4 linked regions of the Homo sapiens genome follow. The protein of the gene in region 4 purifies or fractionates together with the protein of the main gene of each other region. This does not show direct contact. Each region holds a gene or a part of one and is shown on either strand. Other genes may lie near its edges.

Evidence for each region. The genes of interacting proteins can lie anywhere in the genome.
Region 1: the proteins of ACVRL1 (region 4) and IGSF1 purify together in Homo sapiens (affinity purification with western blotting, with the first as the bait; one study listed by BioGRID). This does not show direct contact.
Region 2: the proteins of ACVRL1 (region 4) and ITGA5 purify together in Homo sapiens (co-immunoprecipitation; one study listed by IntAct). This does not show direct contact.
Region 3: the proteins of ACVRL1 (region 4) and SLC25A24 purify together in Homo sapiens (affinity purification with mass spectrometry; one large-scale study listed by BioGRID and IntAct). This does not show direct contact.

Annotation. Positions count from the first base shown.
Region 1 is NC_000023.11:131,276,157-131,279,306, forward strand, and holds part of IGSF1 (immunoglobulin superfamily member 1 isoform 1 precursor), read right to left. Parts: coding exon 3,115-3,150; intron 3,035-3,114; coding exon of another isoform or gene 3,020-3,034; coding exon 2,987-3,019; intron 2,596-2,986; coding exon 2,305-2,595; intron 1,979-2,304; coding exon 1,700-1,978; intron 1,071-1,699; coding exon 783-1,070; intron 93-782; coding exon 1-92. UniProt on the Homo sapiens protein: Seems to be a coreceptor in inhibin signaling, but seems not to be a high-affinity inhibin receptor. Antagonizes activin A signaling in the presence or absence of inhibin B.
Region 2 is NC_000012.12:54,409,267-54,412,766, forward strand, and holds part of ITGA5 (integrin alpha-5 precursor), read right to left. Parts: intron 2,699-3,500; coding exon 2,568-2,698; intron 470-2,567; exon of another isoform or gene 332-469; coding exon 219-331; intron 87-218; coding exon 1-86.
Region 3 is NC_000001.11:108,190,344-108,193,843, forward strand, and holds part of SLC25A24 (mitochondrial adenyl nucleotide antiporter SLC25A24), read right to left. Parts: intron 2,493-3,500; exon of another isoform or gene 2,279-2,492; coding exon of another isoform or gene 2,153-2,278; intron 1-2,152. UniProt on the Homo sapiens protein: Electroneutral antiporter that mediates the transport of adenyl nucleotides through the inner mitochondrial membrane. Originally identified as an ATP-magnesium/inorganic phosphate antiporter, it also acts as a broad specificity adenyl nucleotide antiporter.
Region 4 is NC_000012.12:51,920,683-51,923,861, reverse strand, and holds the end of ACVRL1 (activin receptor type-1-like isoform 1 precursor), read right to left. Parts: intron 3,104-3,179; coding exon 2,969-3,103; 3' UTR 501-2,968; downstream 1-500. UniProt on the Homo sapiens protein: Type I receptor for TGF-beta family ligands BMP9/GDF2 and BMP10 and important regulator of normal blood vessel development. On ligand binding, forms a receptor complex consisting of two type II and two type I transmembrane serine/threonine kinases.

The DNA.
Region 1 (3,150 bases), on a different chromosome or scaffold from region 4:
CTGGAAAGTCCCTTGGCAGCGCAGGATCACACTCTTCCCAGGAAACACCACAGGACCTGGCTGTGCCAGGAGAGTGGGTTTGGGGTAGAATTCTGAAATTAAAGAGACCACAGCATGAGATAAACCCAGCCCTCACATCCTGCAAATAGCCTTTTAAAGTGTTATTGTAAGACACAATATATGTTTGTTGTTAAAAATTAGAAAATATAGAAAAAAAAACTAATGAAGGAAACACAATTCTACCACTCAAAGATAAATATTTTTAATATTTAATTGCCATTTATTCTTTCCATATATTCCCATGTCCATGTAGCTATAACTGTTTACATAATTGGGACTCCACTTATGCACAGTTGTGTAGTTGTGTAGTATGCAGCTGACATTTCAAGGTCTTCTCCCTTTCTCTGAGAGCCATCCAGCCCACCGGTCTCTGACAGCCCAGCTAGAGAAAAAGTGGACATTGAGCCTAAAGCTCAATGCCAAGCCATAAAAATGTGCAGAAATAGGGCAAGTTGAACCGAGCTCTTGGGATTAGACACCCCCATCTACCTCATTTATTTCCCCAGAAGTGAATTGCTTGCCTCCCCACTGCCTTTGTTTCTTGTTCCTGTAATAATAACATGAGCAGCTGTGCATCATGGACTGGTCACTATGGGCCAGCCGCTGTCCTAAGCACGTTCTCAGTGTGTTTTAGAAGAAACATTTCTTCCTCTCCCACTGACAGCCTTCCACCCACCATCCCAGGGTTGGCACCACCTCTACCTGGAGTCCCCCCTCCTAACCTGTCACCACGAGCTCCACAGGGTCGCTGGGCTCAGACCAGATAGAAAAGTCATAATATCGGCAGCTGTAATTCCCTCCATCACCAATGCCCACCGAAATGATTAGAAAGTGAGCTGCACTGGCCCCCGGACTTGCCCAGGACCTGTCACTGGATGCTATTTCACTTCCATCTTTGTAAAGAATAAAGCTCATATGCTGGTGGGGGGTGGAGCAATTGAAAGTCACTCGGGCACCAGGGGTGACCACAGGGCTGGCCCATGTCTTGAAGAAGGGCTTAGGGTACATTTCTAGAAGGCAAAAAACAAAAACAAAAACAAAAAACAAAATACAACACAAAACCAAATTAAGAACAAGAAAGAGAGAAAGCAAATATAGCAAATATTGGTTCTCGGAGGCTTCTTTGCTTTTAAGTAAGTGCATTTAAAAAGTAAGGTAAATCCACTTTGCAGATGGACTTCTCACACAGGGACCCTTCAACCCCACCCCTCACTACCTCCAGATGAGTCCTCAGTGTGATCAGGGCAGGCAATGGAGGCTAGTAAAAAGGTAGAATTTTTCTTGGGGTTCTGCTGATTCTCTGAGCCTCAGTTTGCCCATTTGGACAAGGGGAAAATGGTACCTGCTTCACCCACCTTGAAGAGTTGCTCTATGGTGAAGTGAGATAATTGATGTGAAAATAATTAGAAAAATTAAATCACCCTCCACGAACCAAAGCTATTAATAACGATTATGGCTATTAATATCGTGCAGCCAGAGGCCCTGGCACTCCCAGCGCCACGCCTGCCTGGCTCTAAGATTGGACACAGGCTCTCAGGACCAGCAGCAAAGTTTGCTGCAGGGAGAGGAGTGTCTGACCCAGGGCTTTGCCTTTCCCTCCACCCTGCCCCCTTTCCTCCCACACCCTTTTCAGCTCTACCTTTTATGACAAGCTCCAGCGGCTCACTGGGCTCAGACCACTTGAAGGGGCGTTTTTCAGTGTGAGTGCGGCAGCTGTAATTGCCTTCGTCTTTATCCTCCATTCTCTGGATTGTAAAGAAGGCTTCTCTTCCAACAGCACCAAGTTGCTGGACAGGTTCTTGCTCTCCCTCCTTATACAGAGCAAACCCCATGCCTGCCAGCCATCCTTTGCACCGGAGTTGTAGTTCCTGGCCCCGGATTGTGGGGGAAGCAGAAATGACAGGTTTGGGGAGGATGTCTGGAAAACAGAATGGGGTGAAAAAGGAGTCAGAAGTTTGCAGTTGCCCAGATGGGATACTCAGGGTCACTTTGTCAGCAAATAAAGACATTCATTCTGGGCTGGCCCTAGGCTCTTCCAGTCAGTCTCCTCACACTCTCTTTCCCATTCCGCCCCTCCCCCTACCCCATAACCCCCTACCATTTCAGTGCCCCTCCTCTCCTACATGCAGCACGAGCCCCTTGGGCTCCAGGGTCCCTGTGAGTTCATTCCCTCACTCCCAGGAGCAGTGTTGGAGTCCCAGGGGCACTGGGGATAACTCCCGGAGACCCTCTACATTTTCTTACCTGTCCCCACCAGCTCAAGTGCCTCACTGGGCTCCGATACAGCCATCTCCTCCCATGAATGGCAGTGGTAGCTCCCGGTGTGGCTCTGGGTCAGGGCGCCAAGGGGGAAGGCAGCCCGGACCTGCTCTGAGGCCGGGCGAGTGGCGATCCACCCGGTCCCATCCTTCAGCAACACAAACTCCTTAGTTGAGCCAGAAGGGCTTCTGCACCAGAGGGTTAAGTTCTTCCACGGGGCCAGAGGAAAGTTGGTCTCTGCCCACAGCTCAGGCTTAGGGGTTGGCATGACTATTTCTAGAAACAGCAGAATTAATGAAGCCATCCTCCCGCCTCCCTTCCCCTCCCTCCTCCTTGCCCTTGAACCCTCTACCCAGATCACACTGCCCACCTCCCCTTGCAACCCAAATCCAAACCCTTTCCTTCTTTCCTTCCTTCCTCAGGTGCTGGGGAAAGGGGAAGCTGGTGTCTTATAGCTGAGCCTCAGAAAAGTGCAGAAGCTTGGAGGAAATTTTGCAGGCAGAAAGGCAAAGTTGGAGGCTGAATTTTGCCAGCAGCTTTAGCAAGTGCCCCTTCCTGGCTGCCCTTCCCTCCCAACCAGCCACTCCCTGGCCAATGACACTGACGCTCTGTAGTTATTTCGGATCTCCAGGGAGGAATGTCCCAGTCTGGAGCAGGAAAAACTCACCAGTCTCTTCTATCAATACCCCATTGCACAGTCCTGCAAAAGAAATTGCTGCCAGGACTCGGCCCCCTCCCCCACCGGGACTTCACCCCGGCCTTCTGCCCGGGGCCCCTTCCCCCACTTGTACTCACCACAGCAGAGAAGGGCCGTGACTATGAAGAGCATGG
Region 2 (3,500 bases), 2.5 Mb from region 4:
AAGTTATCTGTGGAGAGGTAGCAGGTGCCCACGGGGTCGCTCAGTGGCTCCTTCTCTGTGCGCCAGCTGTACAGTGGAGCGCATGCCTGGGAGGGCCCAGGAGGAGGGGCCTTCAGATTCAGTCCAATAAGGCCCTTCCTCCCTCCCTCCAGGCCCGGCCTTACCCAACCACTGCCCATCCCCTGGCCACCACACCACTGAGCTTGCTGGCCCCTCACCAAGATGGAGGAGCCATGGGCTCGAACTGTTGCCCCGAACCACTGCAAGGACTTGTACTCCACAGGCTCCTCTCCCTCTGAGCTGGACAGTGAGGACTCCAGGAGCCGAGAGCCTTGTGGAAGTGAGAAGGGGGAGTCTTACTGAGCCATGGACATTTGAGCTCTAGGGCAGCCCCTACCCTCAGCCTGGGGATACCCAACAAACGCTTCCAAGCCCTGAGACTCCATGACTCGCTGGGAGTGTGGAATTGGTAAGGAGCTTAATTCTGCTTTGTGTAGTCTGTTTGTGTAGCCTGACTTATCTCTCCACTACACACATACACATACACACACACACATACATACACACGCACGCACACGCACACAGAACCTGGGCTTTCTTTTTTTTTTGAGATGGAGTCTCACTCTGTCACCCAGGCTGGAGTGCAGTAGCATGATCTCGGCTCAGTGCAACCTCCGCCTCCCTGGTTCAAGGGATTCTCCTGCCTCAGCCTCCTCAGTAGCTGGGATTACAGGTGCGCGTCACCACACCTGGCTAATTTTTGTATTTTTAGTAGAGACGGGGTTTCATCATGTTGGTCAGGCTGATCTCGAACTCCTGACCTCATGACCTGCCCGCCTCAGCCTCCCAAAGTGCTGGGATTACAAGCGTGAGCCACTGCGCCCGCGTAGAACCTGGGCTTTCTAGAGTTGCCTCCCCAAGGTTCCTGCTTTCTCACCCAACTGAGACAAGGATGCCTGCTGTGGAGCAGGGGCAGGAGGATGGTGGGGAACAGTGGCTATTTCCCAAGAGAGTAACCCTTTGGCTGCACTTCTTTGTCTATACTTGGACTGTGTCTCTAACACCATCTTGTTCCACCTCCTTTTTTTTTTTTTTTTGAGATAGGGTCTCACTCTGTTGCCCAGGCTGGAGTGCAGTGGCGTGATTATGGCTCACTGCAACCTTGACCTCCTGGGTGCAAGTGATCCTCCCACATCAGCCCCCCAAGTGGGTGGAAACTATACCCAACTAATTTTTGTGTTTTTTGTACAGATGGGGTTTTGCCATGTTGACCAGGTTTATTTTAATTTTTTTTTTTTTTTAAACAGGGTCTTGCTCTGTCACTCAGGCTACAGGGCAGTGGGGCAAGTAGCACTCATTGCAGCCTTGGCTGCAGTGACGGAGAATCACTCAAGTGATTCTCCCACCTCAACCTCCCGAGTAGCTGGGACTACAAGTGCTCACCACTATGCCTGGCTAATTTTTTTTTTTTTTTTCTTGAGACAGAGTCTTTCTCTGTAGCCCACGCTGGAGTGCAGTGACATGATTTCAGCTCACTGCAATCTCTGCCTCCTGAGTTCAAGCAATTCTTGTGCCTCAGCTTCCCAAGTAGCTGGGATTACAGGCAAGTGCCACCATGCCCGGCTAATTTTTGTATTTTCAGTAGAGACGGGGTTTTGCCATGATGGCCAGTCTGGTCTCAAACTCCTGGCCTCAGGTGATCCACCTGCCTTGGCCTCCCAAAGTGCTGGGATTACAAGCATGAGCCACCACACCCAGCTCTGTCTAATGTTTTTGGTAGAGACAGGGTCTCACTATGTTGGCCAGGATGGTCTTGAACTCCTGGGACCAAGTGATCCTCCTGCCTCGGCCTCCCAAAGTGCTGGGATTACAGGCACATGCCACCGTGCCCAGCCTGTCCAGTTTTTATTTCTGGAGACAGATGGCCCTAGTTCATATCCTCTCTCCAATGTTTGCTAGCTGTATAACCTTGGATAAGCTACTTACCCTCTGTCTCCTCACTTAGAAAATGGGGATAATAATACCTTATACAGTTGTTGAAAAGATTAAGTGAACTAATATATGTAAAGTGTTCACAACTGGGCCTGGCACAGAGCAACTGATAGCTGTTAGTCTCCATCTTCCTCCCATCCATCTGTGTCTACTCAGACCTTGAGCTCCTTGAGGGCAGTGGCTTAGTCATCTTTCAGTCCCTGCAGCACCAGCACAGTGCCTGTCATGCACTGTCACTTAGTCAGTACTTAGTTAAAGGAACTGAATAGTTTGTGCAACATTCCCTGTCTTTGTCTGTGTTACGGCCCTGGCCTCCCAGAATTGTGGGTGATTCAGGGGAAATGAGAGCCACATGTTTCTGAATCATGCCCGTCCTCCTTGGGCTGGGCTGGATGGGAGAGTGGAGTGAGTGCCATGGGGATCCACTGTAAGCAGTTGGAGCACCAGAGCTGGTGCTGAGAGGTCACGTGGCCGGGGTTCCAGCAGGCTCCACCCCTCGCCCCAGGCCCCACCCAGGCCTTGCCCCCAGGCTGCAGTCCCACCCCCCAGTCCCTCCCTGAATTTCACTGGCCTACCTTTGCTGTCAAATTCAATGGGGGTGCACTGTGTGGGGCTGGCACCCCAAGGACAGAGGTAGACAGCACCACCCTGCAGCACTCCTGGCTGGCTGGTATTAGCCTTGGGTGCTCCCACCAGCACACTGACCCTGTGGGGGGGAAAAGCGAGGCAGTTGAGGATGGCTCCTAGCTTTTCATTGGTGTCTGGAGGCAGGAAGGACCCAGGCCTCTAGGCTGGGGCTGGCTGGGGGTGGAGTAGATGCCCCCTGCGTTGTATTTATATCTCAGAAGATGCCACAGATGCCAGAGGCACAGGCTGGAGTCAGGCGGTCCCCATGTGCCGCTGTCACTAACACAACCCTCCCCTCCTCCCGCCATTCTCTGTCCTCTCCTACCTTATCCTGTTCATAAAGAGAGGAGGAACCACAGTCAATTTCTAGAAGGGGAAGAGGGGCCAGAGCCTGTACCCCTGGCTTCTCCCTCTCCTCTACGTACCTGCTGAGATTAGATGTATAGCTTCTGGAGCGCCAAGGTCCTGTGGAGCCTCAGGGTCTCTCATCTAGCCTATATACTCTCCTCCCAAGCCAAATCCCCTCCCTGGGCCAAGACCCAGGCATCCGGCTGCCCAGCCACCCAGCCTTGGGGCGTGTAGGAGGAAAATGTGAGTCTTGGAAATCAGGCAGCAGGAGTGGAGAGAGGAGCTGGAGGACAGTGAAAACAGATTGTTCCACTGGGCCTGGGCCTGCCCTCACCCCGGCCCTGGTGTGGGCCTCCCCTTCCTGGCTGGGTCTGTGTTTCAGCCCTTGAACCCCTTTCCCATAGACCACCCCCAGCTGACTGAATTCAGAGTCTGCTCTACCGGGGTCCCAGTTCTGGACACAGTGCTTCTGTTCCCCCTGATATGAGGGGAAGTTTGCCCTGTGTAATGGGGTGGTCATAGCTAAGGGCCTG
Region 3 (3,500 bases), on a different chromosome or scaffold from region 4:
GCTGTCGGTTATTAATCAAATTCTGACCATTTGGGGCTGTTACAGCAGTTATTGCATAGCTTTGTGTATTGTCTCTAGAGATAGCAACCTGACTTCCTATAAGTCTGACATAACAGGCTGGTTTCCTGGTCTGTTTATTTTAGATAAAGGGCTGGTTTTCTGGGCAGACTGCTGTAAATTTTGAGTCAAAGTTCTATTTTTATTTATGGTCTGACCATTATCTCTTCGTATATTTAGTTTCTCAACTTTCACAGGAAAAAACAAAACAATATATTGTTCAAAAACAGACTATTTTCACAATAAAAAGTTATTGCTTTTGTATCTTAACACGACAATGTAAGTATCATTTCTTTTTTTTTTTTTTAATCAGTTGAGTTTTGTCTATATAAACAAATTTTCCTACTGGGGAGGTGGAGACGTGTGGGAAGAGACCTCACATCAAAACCTCCTAACGATGTGACTGCCACTTGAGGAAAAGTCACAATGGTGCTCCTCTGAAACAGAATGTTCTGTGTGGTTGGTGCAGAATTCTCTGGGGACACCCCTCCCTTGGGTTTTGACATGTGAACCCTCCTCAGTCACCACTAGGTACACAAAGCGTCCTTGCCAAAAATGCAAGACAGCTCTACAAACCTTTTGTTTCAATAAGGAAGAAATGTGTTTCAAAAGATTCGACTTGATAGCTAACCCAGAATTTCTTATGAAAGGCTAGTTTGTATCAAATAAACAAATACAACTTACACTTGCAAATCTAAATATAAGAGTGTCTTTAAACAAATATGAAGAACACTTAACTTTTTTTTTTTCTTTTTGAGATGGAGTCTCACTCTGTCACCCAGGTTGGAGTGCAGTGATGCAATCTCAGCTTGCTGCAACCTCTGCCTCCCAGGCTCAAGTGATTCTCCTGCCTCAGCCTCCTGGGACTACACACACCCACCACCACACCCGGTTAATTTTTGCATTTTTAGTAGAGATGGGGTTTTACCATATTGGCCAGGCTGGTCTTGAACTCCTGACCCCAAGTGATCCACCTGCCTTGGCCTCCCAAAGTGCTGGAATTACAGGCATGAGCCACTGCACCTGAACAAGAACACTTAACTTTAAAAGGAGAAACACTGCTTTTTTCTAGGAATTAAAAATCCAGATAAGCTTTGCAGAAATAACATTTTGGACTGAATTGGTCCACAGAAAGTACACAGTCCAGGCCTCTGATATAACAGATGAGGATACCAGGGTATGGGGCTTGGAATATAGAATGTGCTCAAACTAGAACTGACCCATGACTGAATGGATGCTTCAATATTCCCAAAGTTCACATGGCTAATAGAAAGAGTTTTACTAAATTTCAACATGACAGAACTCAACTGACAGTTTTTTGGGCACGAAGTACCAATTATCCAAAATAAACTCAATAGTCCACATGCTCATGATCTCCCAGTCTACCGGGTCAAACATCCAAAGAGCAAATATACTTATAAAGTAATTATTATATACAATAATAAATTCCAAATGAAAAATGACTTGGAAATACTGCAATAGGAGTATGTACGAAGCACAACATGCTGAGAAGGAGCCTGTAGGTTAGCCTTCTGGGGAAGAGAAGGGTTAGCCTAAGCTCGGTACTGATAACTAGGGTCTATCAATTAAGGCATATTATGAGGAAACCTCAGCACTAGTGAAACCCGAGAGTAAAAGCCACTTCCACTGCCCCCTTCCAGGAACAGAAACCGAAACATAACATCAGAAAATTTCCAATCACCACCCCACTCCCAAATACACGTAGAGTGATTATTCCAGTTCTCTGAACTGGGGAGGGCGCATCTTTAGCCTAGACGCCCCTCTGGGTGACTAATGACAGGTGAGCACATTGAACAAGGTGACTCCTAAGACAAGGCTGTATGTAGCCAACATCTTGAGAGCAATCTGAAGTTGGAGATTTTACTACAGCCAAGGAGAAAACGGAGAAAAATACTTGAGAAATGTGTTAGCTGTGTTGTTATTCTTAATAAACGGTAACGCTGGTCAACGACCTGAACACTGCAGTGGGCCCAGGTCAAGCTTGACAACATGTAAATTTTGCCCTCTCTGCCCAATGCCTCTCCAGGGCTCCCAGCCCCAACGTCTCTCTGATTACAGCCCCAGTGAGACCCACCTTCGCTTCCTCTAGAGATTGAATGGCCCCTACATCCTCCAGGCCTTCCTGAAGCTCAAAAATGTCCAAGGTCCCATCCTTGTTATAGTCCAGGTACCAAAAGAGATCTCCGTAGAGGGAGTCCATCGAGGATGTCTCCCTCGCAGCTCCGCGGCCTGAGTGAGCCCCAGCGGGGTGGAAGTGCGACCGACGAACGGGATCTCTGCCCACCACACACGTCCAGTGGGAAGAGGCCTAAGACAGCATCCTCCTCAGGGGCGCCAAACACAATGCACCTTCATCGGTTAAAGCTCTGGAAGGAGAGGGCTCATCCTAACGGCTTCAGCGCAAAGGCGCGAGCGCGCAGGACCCGGGACCTGCGTGGGACCGCACTCTGGGCTGCGCTGGGAGACCGCGGAGTTCCTGCCTCACTCACGTCTGATCAGAAGCCCCGGCTCCCACTCCAGGAAGAGTCCAGTCGGGGCAACTCAAGCCCCTTTCCCCAGAAACTTCCAGGGAGAACCCAGCACAGGGCCATCTGAAAGTATAGCTTCTCTTTTGGAGAGAAGTAGGTTGGGAATGTTGGGACATGGGCTATTGCAGCATAAGTGACTGGCGGTGGCGGCCTGCCAACATTTAAAAAAAATTGTTTGGCTGCACCTGTCTAGGAATCCTTCTTTTTAAAAATCCTTATAATGATTTTTTAAAATAAAATAATTTTATTGTAGATTCAGGGGTTACACCATCAGCTTGTTACAAGGGTATACTGTGTGATACTGGGGTTTGAGCTCCTAATCGTGCCATCACCCAGGTTGTGAACAAAGTACCCAGTAGGAAGCTTTCCAGCCCTTGCCCTCCTCCCTCCCTCCCCCCTTTTGGAGTCCCTAGTGTCTATTGTTCCCATCTTTATGCCCCATTTACCCAAGGTTTAGCTCCCCCTGTAAATGAGAACACAGTATTTGTTTTTCTGTTTCTACAATAATTCGTTTAAGTTATTGGCTTCCAGCTGCATTCATATTGCTGCAAAGGACATGATTTTGCTCCTTTTTTATGGCTGCATAGTATTCCATGGTGTGTATGTACCACATTTTCTTTATCCAATCTGCTGCTGATGGGTACCTACATTGTGTTGTAGGAATCCTTTTCTAAGGTTGCAGCACTGGAGAATTGCTGTAATAAAGACTAGGAATTGAATGAAAATCTGCCCACATGGGCCCTTTCTTCTGTGACACCTCCCCTCACAGTTTTTTATCTTTTATCTTCATCCAACCACTACAATGGCTCCAGGGCAAGCCTATCCTTCAGCTGTTAGTGGCTGGATTGGAAAGATGATCTCAAAATAGGCAAAAGTTCAGTGATCTTGGGTCCC
Region 4 (3,179 bases):
AATGGGGACTGACTCCTGGCAAGATGGGGACCCCATTTGAGAAGGGAAGTGAGAACAAGGAATTGAGGAGGGAGGGTCCAAGCTGCCGGTTCGGAAGCAGAACGCTCTTCGCTAGGTGTGGTATTAGGGGGACAGTCCCTGCAGAACAGCAAGTCAGTGAGCACACAGACGTTGGCCCCCGGGTGCGGGGAAGGCTGCCCCACCCTGCCGGGAAAGGCCCCGCGGTCCCTGTGTGGGGATGGGAGGCGGCCGCTGGGCAGCCCTCGGCCAGCAGAGGGCGACGTGGCAGGTGCGGCGACTAGGCTGCTCCCAATCTGGGGTAGGAACTGAGATTTGGGCCCCCGCGGGGGTCTGAGCAGGGGCGTGAGGAAACTGTGACCTGTCTAAGGGCAAAGCTGGGCGTGTATCCTGGGACCCTCTTCTCCCCGGATCCCTCTGGTTTTATCTGGACCTCTGCGACGGGCCACTGCAGAGGCATCGGCCTGGGAAGACTCCGGAGCTCAGGATTTAACCATGGTTTATTGCAGACCTATTGTGTGCCAGGCATGAGCCCAGTGCTCCCACAAACAGCGTCTCCAGGTACGAGAAGTGTAATTTCGACCCTGGAACACCTTCCTGCACTCAGACAGAAGCATGTGCAGACTGCTCTCAGCAACGCCACCTCCTTCACTCCCTGGCCATTGGGCCCCCTTCTCTCTACCTGTCCCCTGTCACTCCACTTCCTGCCCCAGGCCTTCTCTTAGGGATTTTCCAGGCTTTGGGGAGCTGCTGCTTTCAGTTTCTGGCTGTGGGGTCTCAGCAGGAGTTTGTTCCAAAACCCAGTAGAAATAAAATCCTTCAAGAGGGAGATGATTCGTGGGCTGGGTGGATTCCAGTGACCAGAGGACGTGCAAACTCTGCCCTAATGATCTGGGAACCTAGCCCATCCATTGAGCTTTCTGTTTTCACCCAGTTTCACTTCCTGGTTCTCTTCCGAGCCTTGCACAATGCTGGGAGACAGGCCTAGAAAAGTGCCACCATGAGGATGGTGGAAGACACACATAAGATGCCGGCCTGGGGAGGCTACTCTGGGTCATTACAGCAGGAGCGGGGAGAGCTTTCTTCACTGCCCTGCCCCTAGGCTGAGGACGACTAAGGCCAGGTCTTCCCAACCTTGGGGCTGTCCTTGTCCATAGCCTGAGTCTCCACCCCCGCTCCTTATATTCCTCAAGCTCCCCTCCAATCCACTTCCCTGCAGCCCACTTCCCTGCACCCAGGGACCAGGACAACCTGCTCCATACGTGAGCATACATACATCCTTGAAATTTCCAAATGCCAAACTTTCTGTGTGTCTCTCTAGAGCCATTGAATTCTCCTGAGACACACTCTCTGGGCCTGGCCAGGGGTGTGGGCCTGAGCCAGGGGCCAGTAGGGGAGCTGGAGCCTTCTTGGATGGAGCCAAATTTCTTTTGAGCCTTGGAAGCCTTGGAGGAAGCCGCCCTGCAGTCCTGGGGCAGAGAAGACTATGCCACAGAGAGGGCGAGGGGCTGGCTTGTGGTCAAAAGGCCCAGAGCTGTCTGAGCCCAAGGGTGGCCACTGGCATGGTTTTAGGCAAGAACTGGAGCTTGCAGACTTAGACTAGGAGGTGCTCCAGACACTCCTTGAGTCAGGTAAAGTTATTTTCAAACCCCCATCTTGAGGCAAATTGCCAGGGGCTGGAGCATAAGGAATAGATGAGACTGAAGAAGTTAGCTGTGATATAGGCTGAAGTGTCAGAGAACTAGAGCTAAAGAAGCCTCAAAGGACATCAGGACCAAATCTTCCAATATGTAGATAAGAAACAAAGGTCCTGGCCAGGCGCGATGGCTCACACCTGTAACCCCAGCACTTTGGGAGGCTGAGGTAGGTGGAACACCTGAGGTCAGGAGTTCGAGACCAGCATGGCCAGCATGGTGAAACCCTGTTTCTACTAAATATACAAAATTAGCCAGGCATGGTGGCATGTGCCTGTAATCCCAGCTACTCGGGAGTCTGAGGCAAGAGAATGATTTGAACCTGGGAGGTAGACGTTGCGGTGAGCTGGGATCATGCCATTGCACTCTAGCCTGGACAACAAGAGCGAAACTCCGTGTCAAAAAAAAAAAGAAGGAAAAAAGAAAAGAAAAGGTCCTGAGACAGGCCTGCTTTTGTCACATGGAGCAAACATCCGGGGTCAGACCTGGGTCTCTTGACACCCACTGACCTTCCCCCTGCCATGCTTGGCCTCGATATCCTCTCAGTTAATCTGAAAGTCCTGGGCCTTGCCCATCTGACCTGCCCTTTTTCCACTGGCCTGTGATCCTGCCACACCTCAGTAGGACCTCTTAGGATTTAATGCCCTAGTAAGTCAGGCCCCAGCTCTCTCAGGCAGCTGACATTCAGCAAGCTGCACTCTTGTTGAGGAGACAGAAAGCCCAAGGCATCATGGAGCTGAGATACAAATCCACAGAGAGAAACTGATGGGCCCTGGCTCTCTGGAGCTTATGCTAGAGGCTGAGGCCTGGCAGGGAAGTGTGTGCCAGGGGCTGGACAGGGCCCTGTGCCACCCTGGCAGCTCTGGTGGGGCAGTGGGGTTGATCAAGGGCAGGGGGCAAAGTGCAGGCCCGGGCTCTGAGTCTGGGACTGGGATTCCCTGGCTTGGCACTCTGACTCTGGAGCCTCTTTTGCATCCTGTCCCGGGAGTGGTAGGGGGTGCACCATGCTGGCCATAGGGGTGGGGAGAGAGCCAGGCGTCAGGGAGCCTGCCGCTTTGAGCAGGCCAGACAGCAGGGGATCAGGTTTCAGCCCAGCTGTATTTTTGGCTGGGTGGGCTGGGGGCCGAGCAGGCAGGCGCAGCTGCCCATCCCCAGCACACACCACACTCACACTACCTCTACCCAGATAGGGCACCATCCACTGCCCCCCACCCCCCCAGCCCCCTGCAGGCAGAAAGGAATCAGGTGCTCCTGGGCTATTGAATCACTTTAGGCTTCTCTGGACTGTTGCTAATTTTTTGTAGTGTCTTCTTGATCCGCAGCGCGGTGAGTCGGGCAGAGGGGTTTGGGTACCAGCACTCCCGCATCATCTGAGCTAGGCCTGAGAGGACCTGGGGGTTGGGAGAGAGGTGCAGAGGAGAGGAGGCAGAGAGAGAGATGCAGAGAAGAGGAGGGGGTCGGGAGAGA